Linked DNA regions of Homo sapiens: region 1 is linked to region 2. Evidence: fine-mapped expression QTL. A gene starts in region 2. The other region holds a variant in brackets. All regions are shown on one strand. Distances are from middle to middle. Region 1 overlaps DOCK3 (dedicator of cytokinesis 3). Region 2 holds the start of RPL29 (ribosomal protein L29).

Region 1 (5,372 bases), 660 kb before region 2:
ACCACTTAATCACTTGTATTTTCCCTTCAGGTTTCTCTGTATGCTGTGTTCTCTCCCAAGAGTGGTCTTCCAACTCACCCCTATTAAGGAAGCTTTCCCAAGCCAGGAGCTTACCTTTCCGTGCACACATTGAATGATGATCATTTGTCATTCTGTCTTACCTTACAAAAGAGGACCAGCTCCTTGAGGATAGGAACCTTGTCCTTATCTCCCTGTTCCCCTGTATGGGGGCCAGCTCCTGGCAGGTGCATAGTAAATAATGAGTGATAAACTTGTTGGAAAGACCATGCAGGAACCAAGCAACTCTTTTCCTCTGCCTCAATGCAGTTAGTTCAAGAACTTACTAAGAAAAGAGTTGTTGGCCAGGCACAGTGGCACAAGCCTGTAATCCCAGCACTGTGGGAGACCAAGGCAGGCAAATTGCTTAAGCTCAGGAGTTTGAGACCAGCCTGGACAATATGGCGAAACCCCATCTCTATGAAAAATTGGAAAAGTAGCCAGGCATGGTGACATGCACCTGTGGTCCCAGCTACTTTGGAGGCTGAGGTGGGCGAATCACTTTAGCCGGGGAGGTCGAGGATGCAGTGAGCTGAGATTGCGCCACTGAACTCCAGCTTGGGCGACAAAATGAGACCCTGTCTCAAAAAAAAAAAAAAAGAAAAGAAAAGAAAAAGAAAATAGTTGTTGATATGACTCAAGGGAAGGACATCAAACAAAAAGGAAAAAATAATTGTTCAAAGTTTTAAAATACATACATTGATTAAACAAATAATCAATAGATTGTACTCTAGAATTACCTGAACCTGTTATGTAAGACTCAATTTTAGACTGGCAAAACTTTAGGTACTCAGAGGAATACCTCTTCAACTTTTATATCAATGTCTTTAACTTTTGTGTGAATCTCAGACACTCTGTGTCAGACATGAAGATTCTCACTGGTAGTAACTATATTTCCCAGGTTAGGAAGCAGAGCCCTAGAAGGGTTTTTTTGTTTTTTTTTTTGTGCCTGGAACAGACAGGGACAGAGCTAGAGTTGCCAAGCCCTTGTGGCTCAGAGTGGAACCTCTACCTGGAATGGGCAACTGAGGGTTATGAAGCCTTCCTTTCCCAGGCCTCTCAGGTTGCAATGAGGGCTTCCTGGTCACTGATGTAGTCCCCAGCCAGCCCACTACTCAGGTGAGCCGGATGCTTCAGAAGCCTCTTTCTGGAGTCTTCCCTGCTCACCCTTCAGAGAAAGAGCAAGAGGAAAGCAACAGCTGCACCTAAGTCAGACTTTAAAAGGCATCCACCATGAAGTAGCCACACAGAAGTGATGCAGAGGTACACAAAAAAAGAGTCTGCTGTCAGCAGTGCAGAGGAGAAGCAGTCATAGAGCACAGAAGTGTGTAGGATGCCCCTGGTATCACAGTGTTGAGGCCAGTTCCTTTCTGTTTAAGGGACTTAGCTATGAAGTTCTGGTTATGGCCAAATAGAAGTTAATCCGTGGTAAATGTTTCAGATGCTTTATAGAAAATACAAATCACTAAATGCCAAAGTGGCTAGGTAAAATCTCACTGCCCTTCATGGGGCCAACTTACTGGGGAGACAGATGCCTTCTACCATTGTGTGGGTTGCTTGGAACAACTTGGCCATCTGACCTCAGCCTCACTCCTCGAAAAGTCAAGCAGTTTCCTGGCTCTGCTAGCGCTAAAGGGACAGGTTCTGCAGAGGGATGTTCAGGACCCTCATGTCTGGCTACATAGGAACCAAATATCTTACGTGGTGAATGTGCTGATAGGTCAAACCCCCCTAGAAAGGAGGGCCTTGGTTCCAAACCTCTCAAACCTATCAACTCTGACAGGAGACTTCCACAGGAAGGACATTTGGCTTTGCAGAATATCATGAGAGGAGTATGGATTTTCAACATCCTTTTCTTTCAAAGAAGTCATCCCAAGGTTCTTCCTCTGCATGATGGGAAGGTGGGGAGAACTGGGTTTGTCAAATGACCATCCAGAGGCTCAGTGACTTGGCCTAGGGACCCTGACTCCCAGCTGTACTGCTCTTCACTGGGCCCTGTGCCTGCCAGTGGAGCAAAGCCAAAGACACTCTCCAACCTGACCCTAGAAATCTGTATAAACCCCTTTCTGCAGCTTTTCCCCAGAGCTGCTAATACACAGCTGCACAAGAAACTAGATCTTCTCCATAGCAGTGTGGGCTGCTATGGAAGGAGACACATCAGGCAGATGGCACTCTGGCTGGCATAGGAGATGTCTTGCTGGATTCACCAGTCTGGTTCTCATTCTCCTTCATCTCCTTGTGCCAGGCTTCTGCTCCTTTCCAGAGGAGCTTGGCTTTGACCAACCCTCTCCCTATCTTGGAAAAGATCCATTCTCAGTGTTCCTATTTTCCTATCTCTCACAGGCCATCCCTGACCCCTCCTACACCCAGACCCTGCTAGGTATGAATGCAGCTCAGTCCTGGCTGATGCTTTAAGCACGAGACCTGCTGCTTCTGGTGATAGATGGCTCCAAACACTAGTACACAGGAAGGAAACCATAGGGAGAAATGTCAACTAGGTGGTGAACATGTACAGAGCCCTGAAGCTAGGGCCCTGAAGTGGAGGGTCTTGGCTTCTATTCAGCACTCCTACAAAATGAAACCTGCCCTTTAAGGAGAATTCTGTGCCTCCCTTTTTGGGAAGTTGAGGATTTGGCCTTCCACTTAATTCATATACCCTTTTGTGCCAAGGACATTGGTAGGTGCCACTTAATACCCTGATGTAGCTCTGGGCTCTCTCTGTGCTCTGCCACCAGAATAAGGGGCTCAGTTGAACAGAGATCTTTGAGCCCTGAGAGTGGTTCCAAAGCTAAAGGAGCTCACAGTAGAGTCCTTATCTATGGAAGCAGTTCCTGTTGGAGGCCATCTCAATCTGGGATTTGGTCATACTAATGCCCCAGTGATAGTACAGTTCTATGTGTTGTCTCAAGGCCCCACTTCATATCTGGTGCTCATCTGTGCTCTCTCTTCCAGGGACTGCATGAAAGGAGAGGAAACAGAGAATAAGAAGATAGGCTGCACTGTTAACCTGATGGTGAGAGGACATGGGCCCTGACTTCTCTCTGCCTACTGAAATGGTTTCTGTCCTGCACTGTGATTGGCTTGGCCCTTCTACAATACATGGCTGCAGGCCTAAGGGTTTGAATCAGGACATCAGCTCTGTTACTG[G/A]TATCTTAGAGGCCTGCACTCCCCCAAACACATTCCTACTTGGGGAAGGAATGAAACGAGCTTCTCTTTGGATAGAACTCTAGCCTGGCCTCTTGGCAAGGACCCACTAACCCTGACATACCCAATTCACAGTCAACCCTGACTCCTGATCTGCCCTGATGCTTTTCCTCTTAACACTACCCAGGGCTCCCATAGACCTGCCAGTGGTTCCACCCACAGCAGGTGTTCCTTCTGGCTGGTGCTTTCTCCTTCTGGTGCTGTCTGCCTCCAGGGCCTGCCCTCCCCCTCCTGCCCAGCACACCCACGGCTATGGCCAGCTGCCCAGAGCTTGGCTATGGCTTCCACAGGTAGTTGACAGGTGTTTCCTTCTCTTTATTGTAGAATTTTTACAAATCTGAGATTAACAAGGAAGAAATGTATATCCGCTACATCCATAAGCTTTGTGACATGCACTTGCAGGCCGAAAACTACACAGGTAAGTGGGGAGAAGAGAGAGCCATGCCTGACCATGAGGACAAACTGAAGGGATTTGTACAATAGGCAGAGAAAGGCTTCAGGCTGGTGCCTGCCAGATCTCAGCAGAATGTTGGGGCTTGTGCTATCCCCTCACCTCACTCATTTCCCTCAACTCCTTTGTGGCACATGGTAGAGAGAAAGCAGGCAGAACTTCCACTTGTGCCTTTGTGCCATGTCATCCACTACTTGAGTCTGTTTCACTCTTCTTCCCTCCTATCCACCCCTCTGAAGTCTCAAGGGTGACCTCCAAATTCTGGTGCACCAGGTTCAGAGCATCCTGAGCTCACTGTCACTCCTTATGAACAGAGAGCCTTTTTTAGGACTTTCAAAGCTGGAGCTAAGGTTATAACAAAGGAATATCCCCCTAACCCTGGAACTTCCAGAACTCACTAGCAGACCTTCCTTGCAGGCTAGGCTCTTCAGACCCTGCAACTGCATAGCAGCCTCACATTGTGCACTCAGTGTAGAGTATAAAGAATGTTCATCTGACTTCTTGACAGGCCAGATAGGGCTCCTTTCATTGTATCTACAATTTAATCCAATATCAAGGCCTTTTCTAACTAGAACAAATTTTAAAGCATTTCAAAGTGGCTGTCACATCTGTTTACTGAGAACCACGCTGAATCGGGGTTACGTGCATGCATGTGTGTCCTATCTGATTGACTTATGCCATCGTTCCCCCCAAAGAGCCATTTTCTCCACTGTGGTGACCAGCCATTATGTCTTAGCTCTTAGGCGATAGGACTTGAATTTGTGTGATAGATCAGGAAATTTAAGCTATCCTTGTCTGCAAACGCTACTGCAATTAGATAGATTTGTAGAAACAGAGAATCCTCCTTCTTTATCTCTAGCCGTTAGAGAGTGTTTGGCATAGATGGTATCTTATCTGATAGCATAGCTTGGCAAGAATTAAATCTAAAATGACTGGGCTTTGAATCTTAAATTCAGCTGACTAATAAAATAAAATGACTGGGCTGAGTCTACCATTCTCTGCATCCACTTGCACCCATGATCCCAGCAACCCTCTGAGAGGGCATTGAAGAGAAAGACTTTGATAAATGTTATGTATCAGTAGAAGCATTTGCTAAACTCCTAGGAAACGGGGCCATGACTGAGAGGCTGGGTCAGGGATTTTAACAGAGAAAGAGTGCTAAGCCTTGTCTCTGATGGCTCAGGGAATGACATCTGAAAAGAATATAGGCAAGGAAGAAAAAGACGTTCCATGGTTTCCTAAGCTCCAGAGGGAGGCCCTGAGTTCCACAGGGCTTGTCCCTAGAGAGAAAAGGCTTCCTGATCCCATGAGGAGGCGTGTACATTCCTTGGCAGGAAGTTCCAGTGGCAAGGGCACAGGCAAAAAGGCAAGGATGAGGAGGAGCCTAAAGAGTGGACACAGGCAAGTGGGCCTAGCTAAAACTGGAAGTGGGTCAATAAATGGTTAGAAATGAGATTCTTCATAGTCATGGGGAGTAGATTTGAGTAGGGCCTTGAAAGCCAGGCAGAAGCACAGAAGCTAGAACTAACTAACTTGCCAGTAGGAGATGCCCACTAAAAATGAACAAATAGAACAGAGAGAAAACTGTGTAATGAGGCCCCTGAGCCGTGGCTGTGATTCAGTATGACTCATCCCTTGGAATGTAGGGAGCCATGGTATT
Region 2 (5,372 bases):
GGGACACCTCAGGCCAGAGTGCAGAGCTGCTCAGCGGGGCCCCTTCCCCTCCCTTGCAGTAAGCTTTAAGACCTCATGAGGATGTTTAAGATTTCTCCCTTTGGGCCAGGAGCACTGGCTCACGCCTGTAATCCCAGCACTTTGGGAGGCCGAGGCAGGCAGATCACAAGGTCAGGAGATCAAGACCATCCTGGCTAACACAGTGAAACCCCATCTCTACTAAAAATACAAAAACAAAATTAGCCGGGTGTAGTGGCAGGCACCTGTAGTCCCAGCTACTTGGGAGGCTGAGGCAGGAGAATGGTGTGAACCTGGGAGGCGGAGCTTGCAGTGAGCCGAGATGGCACCACTGCACTCCAGCCTGGGTGACAGAGCACGATTCTGTCTCAAAAAAAAAAAAAAAAATTTCTCCCTTTGCTCGGCAGGTTACACAGTCCAGCAAGCTATGTGCCCGAGCTTCCCAAAAGCCCCCAATCATTTCTCATTCATTAGGTCCTCCTCTTGCACTTCAGGGCCCCATCTCCTGACTCCCACCCACACCCCACCATCCAGACCCATGTCTTCTCCCACACCAACAGATGGAGCAACCAAACCCATCCCCAGGATCATAGACAGAGGCTAACAAATCCTGCCTCAGGTTTATTTGTACAAATAGCACAGGAGGACCCCAGCCCCATGCAGATGGTAGCCCAGGGGCGGGGGTGGGGGGTCGCACCAGTCCTTCTGTCCTCATGTTGGCAGAGATATCTACTCTGAAGCCTTTGTAGGGGCCTGGGTACGTTTGGGAGCCTGAGCTGGAACTGAAGCTGGGGCTGCAGCCTGGGCCTTGGTTTGATCCTTGGCCTTGGCCTTGGCCTTGGCCTTTGGCCGGCACAGCCTGAGCCCCTTGGCAATACGGGCACGAGCACGCTTCCCAAGCTTGGGGTGGGCAATGTAGGCAAGTCGATCGAGCTTGCGGCTGACACCCTTTGGGATCTTGGGCTTAACCTCCTTGGGCTTTACGAGGGCCTTGATAGCCTCGGCACGTGCACTCATGGCCTTGGCATTGTTGGCCTGCATCTTCTTTAGGCCCTTTTTGTTGTGCTTCTTGGCAAAGCGCATGTTCCTCAGGAACTTGGGGTCCACCTGAAAAGCAGGAAAGGTACAGGTGGCAGCATGTGGGTCCCCAAGTCTCTCCCTGCTGCCCCTCTCCATAGGGGTACCCAGCATTCTAAAGACAGCATCAAGTCAACCTCAAATGTGGAAATACCCAACCTCTTGAAACTATTTCCAGAGAAAGTGTACCACCACCCCAGGGAGCCAATACGCCACCTGGGTAATGCTGTGCAGACCTCCTTCAAGAACAAAATTACAAGCTGCTTTGCTGCCCTGTCTGCCAAGGTTGTGGGGCTTCAACTTCCTACAGCAGGGGTTCGACCAAGTTTTTTCCTGACATCCCCTCAGGGACACCCCCTCCCCTCTTTAGAAGAAGGTGTCAATTAAATACCAAGTCTGGTCCAAAAGACTTATAGCCAAGGTGGGATATGGGGAAACTGAGGCTCAGAGTTTGTGATTCACTCCACGGAACAGAGAGCAAAAGTAAAGGGAAGGAACAGACTGGGGACATGCTCAGCTCTCCCCTAGACCCTCCAGCCTTCTCAGCTAATCCTTAGAACCCCCTGACACAGGAAGAGAAGCTGACCCCAACTCCAGCACTGGGTCAGATGGAGGTCATAAGGCTGGTCAGTGTGGGAATGTGCCCTGCACGCACTCAGACAAGGCCACTCCTTACCCTAAGTGCCACTGCCAAGCAAGGGAGATAGCCAAACTGCCCTCAGGAGGCAGGTTACACCCTGACCAGAGGGTTACACTTCAGGCTGTGGAGACCAAGGAAAGCTTTATTATGGGTCTGGTAGGGTAGAAAAAGGAATTGCAGGCTTTGGGTGGGCCAGTTAGGCTGTGCTCAGGCAGAAGCCAAAGCTAGAGAAAAACTACATGAGAGGCCTTGACTGTGCACCTGGAACCAAGAAAAGACACTTCCATGTGATTCAGTGCACTCACCCCCTTAAGAGATTCGTATCTTTGTGATCGGGGTTTCTTGATACCATTTCTGTGCCATTTTCGGGCTGTGGGAGAAAAAAAGGGAATTAAGCCAACAAAGAACTTTCCTCTAATAAGACCACCCAACATCACAGCTGGCAAGTCTGGGAGAACCAACACTTCCTACAGCAGCTACACTTGAGATATGGGAAACCCTTACTACTAAATGCAAAACACTCTGTATCTCAAGTAGATCTCTAAACCTATAAACCCTAAAGTTATTACTGGGTGAAATCAATCAGCCTCAGGCCCACAATGGAAACGTGCCCCTTCATCTCTGTCCCAGTTTGCCTGAACCAGTCCTTGCCAGGGTCTGGGATGTAGGCAGGGCCCAAAAAACTTACACTGGTTGTGTGTGGTGTGGTTCTTGGACTTGGCCATGTCTGCACCTGGAAGACAAAAGTGGAGATCAGGGTTAAGGGCTCGCCAGGCTGGGCCACCTCTGCCCCCCCCATTCTGGTCAGAATGAGCCTGCAGGCAGAGAATGTGCAGCCTCCACGAGTCTCGGCTTACTCTGCACGACCAAACGCCAGTCCTGGCCTCCCAAACCCAGGTAATGATGCCCTGAAATCAACTCCTTACCCCCGGAAAGCTGCATTCCCCAATAAAGTGGCTTTCCCTGCCATCCCCCTCCTAGGACCTAGAAGCACCATTCCCACCCCGCAGCTTTTGCTCCCGACAGACACACGGTCGGTCACCAGTCCTCTCCGCAGCCCGCGCCCCGCCGCCACCCGTAAGTCGCGGATGGCATCGGATGCCGCGCGGCCAACACTCACCATAAGCCGCGGCTCCCGAAGCGCCTAGAACCGGAAGAGAAAGGGGCTGCGGTGCAGCACGGGAAATAGGGTCAACAACGCCGGAAAGTACTACTGGAAAAGCTTCCCCAGGCTCCGCGAAGAAAAGTTCCGAAGCCCGGAAGAACGCAAGCCAGACGTGGAGGCGGTGCTACGAGCTTGCCTCCGCCCCCTTCAGGCTGCCTCCTCCCTTCTCTGTTTCTCCAGGACCTGTCTCTTAAGTCTTATTCAAGATACTGAAAAAGAAAGGAGTCCTTGAGGGATGTTGTTGGGCAAGAAGATCTGTGTTCTTTTTCTTTTTTTTTTTTTTTGAGACGGAGTTTCGCTCTTCCACCGAGGCTGGAGGGCAGTGGCACAATCTCGGCCCACTGCAACCTCCGCCTTCCGGTTTCAAGCGATTCTCTTGCCTCAGCCTCCCGAGTAGCTGGGATTACAGGCGCCCACCACCACGCCCGGCTAATTTTTACATTTTTAGTAGAGACGGGGTTTCACCATGTTGGCCAGGCTGGTCTCGAACTCCTGACCTCGCGATCCGCTCGCCTCTGTCCCCCAAAGTGCTGGGATTACAGGCGTGAGCCACCGCACCTGGCCGATCTGTGTTCTTAAAAGCACCCCTGTAATCCCAGCACTTTGGGAGGCTGAGGTGGGCGGATCACGAGGTCAGGAGTTCCAGACCAGCCTGGACAACATGGTGAAACCCCATCTCTACTAAAAATCCAAAAAAAAAAAAAAAAAAAAAAAAAAAATTCACGGGGCGTGGTGGCACGTGCCTGTAATCCCAGCTACTCTGGAGGCTGAGGCAGGAGAATTGCTTGAATCTGGGAGGTGGAGGTTGCAGTGAGCCAAGATCGCACCATTGCACTCCAGCCTGGGCTACAGGGCGAGACTCTGTCTCAAAAAAAAAAAAGAAAAGCACGCCTGACTCTTTCGTGGAGAAGGAGCAGAGGGGAGGAAGGAGAGAGGGCTGCCTGGACCTGAGGGAGGACAGTGGGAATGCAGAGGAGTGGACAAAGAAAGAGTACTGGACTTGGGACACAGAAGATGAGGGAGAAAAAGGAGGCAAGGATAGCCCCTATGTCTTTGGCTTGACAACTGGGTGAATGGTGGGCTGTTTACAGAGATGGAAGATTGAGTGGGGAGCAGGGGCTTTGTTTGTTTTGTTTTGAGGGGGAATGATGAGCCAGATATTTTTGTTGGATGCATTAAATGTGAGATGCCTGTTGGACATCAGAATTGAGAAATTGTTGCCTCTAACAACTCTGTTGCCTTCTCCACCTCTTCCCCCTATAGTTCATTTTCCACACGGCAGTGGGGCTTGGGGACTTGTTTTAAGATACAAATCAGATCCTGTCCCTTAAATCTGCAAGGACATCCCCTTGCATTGAAGATCAATTCTTTACCCACTTGACCCTGACAACCTCTGTCATTTACTTCTCTCCAAACGCATTGCCTTTCTTTCCTGCCAACCACAAATGTGTGTTCTGCCTCAGGACCTTTGCACTTGCTATCCCAGCCACCTGGACTGCCCTTCTCCCTGCTTTTTGGATGGTGTGCTCTTTCCTATAGAGGCCTCCCTGGACTCCATTATCTAAAATAGAGAACCACTGCCTCATCTCACCAGTGATTCTGTGTCCTCTCATGGTTTCCTTTCTTTTCTATTCTTTTTTTTTTTTTCTTTTTTTTAGACAGTCTCACTCTGTCTCCCAGGCTGGAGTGCAGTGGTGCGATCTCAGCTCACTGCAACCTCTGCCTCCCGGGTTCAAGCGATTCTCCTGCCTCAGCCTCCTGAGTAGCTGGGATTACGGGCGCACACCACCACTCCCAGCTAATTTTTAAAGAATTATTTTTAGTAGAGACGGGTTTTCACCATGTTGGCCAGGCTGGTGTTGAACTCCTGACCTCAGGTGGTCTGCCCGCCTCGGCCTCCCAAAGTGCTGGGATTACAGGCGTAAGCCACCGTGCCCGGCCATGGTTTGCTTTCTTTATAGAACTTTCCCAGACTCTAATTGCATTGTTTACTTAGTTGTGTATGTGTCCATTATCATAGGAGCCCAGAGTTTGGGACTGGTTTGATCACCTTCATTTTCCCACTGCCTAACTCAGCATAATGTAGATAGAGCAAGAGCTTAATAAACACATGCCCAGTGAACGTTCCTTGACAAGCCAGGTTCGTGGAGTGACAGACGCATACTGCAGAGGTTTAGGGAGTGAAGCGGAAAGGAGGTTGTGGAGGCAGGACATGTGGATGACTCATTACCAAAGCATTCCTGAGAAAGGGGAGAGAATTCTGACAGGTGTGAGTTGGGAGAATGAAAAGCAGGCTTATATACTGATGGATGATCTGGTGCCAAGAAAGAAACAGCTGAGCCCAGAGGAGAGTGTCTCTGCAGGAATAAAGTCCCTGTGGGGTGCTGAGCACAGGTAGAGAACCTGGTGGGCAAAGACAGGGGCTACAGGAGGTGGGGGTGGTGTGATGCCTGACAGCAAGTCAGGACTTCA

What was found. PIP is the estimated chance that this variant, and not a neighbour inherited with it, causes the effect.
Region 1: its variant is the best candidate, but not a certain one, in a credible set for the expression of RPL29 in whole blood (INTERVAL, PIP 0.79).

The regions. Positions count from the first base shown.
Region 1 is chr3:51,335,350-51,340,721 of GRCh38, forward strand. It overlaps DOCK3 (dedicator of cytokinesis 3), which reads left to right. Exons shown (of 53, transcript NM_004947.5): 36 at 3,010-3,070; 37 at 3,586-3,679. Among named protein-coding and RNA genes, the nearest start is that of MANF, 47 kb to the right of the region's middle. RefSeq lists an enhancer at 4,520-5,372. The variant G/A (reference allele first, on the strand shown) is at 3,205.
Region 2 is chr3:51,993,002-51,998,373 of GRCh38, forward strand. It overlaps RPL29 (ribosomal protein L29), which reads right to left and starts at 2,894. Exons shown (of 4, transcript NM_000992.3): 1 at 2,856-2,894; 2 at 2,424-2,468; 3 at 2,041-2,105; 4 at 521-1,125. The coding sequence starts at 2,460. The coding sequence ends at 748. RefSeq lists enhancers at 353-1,085, 2,839-2,998.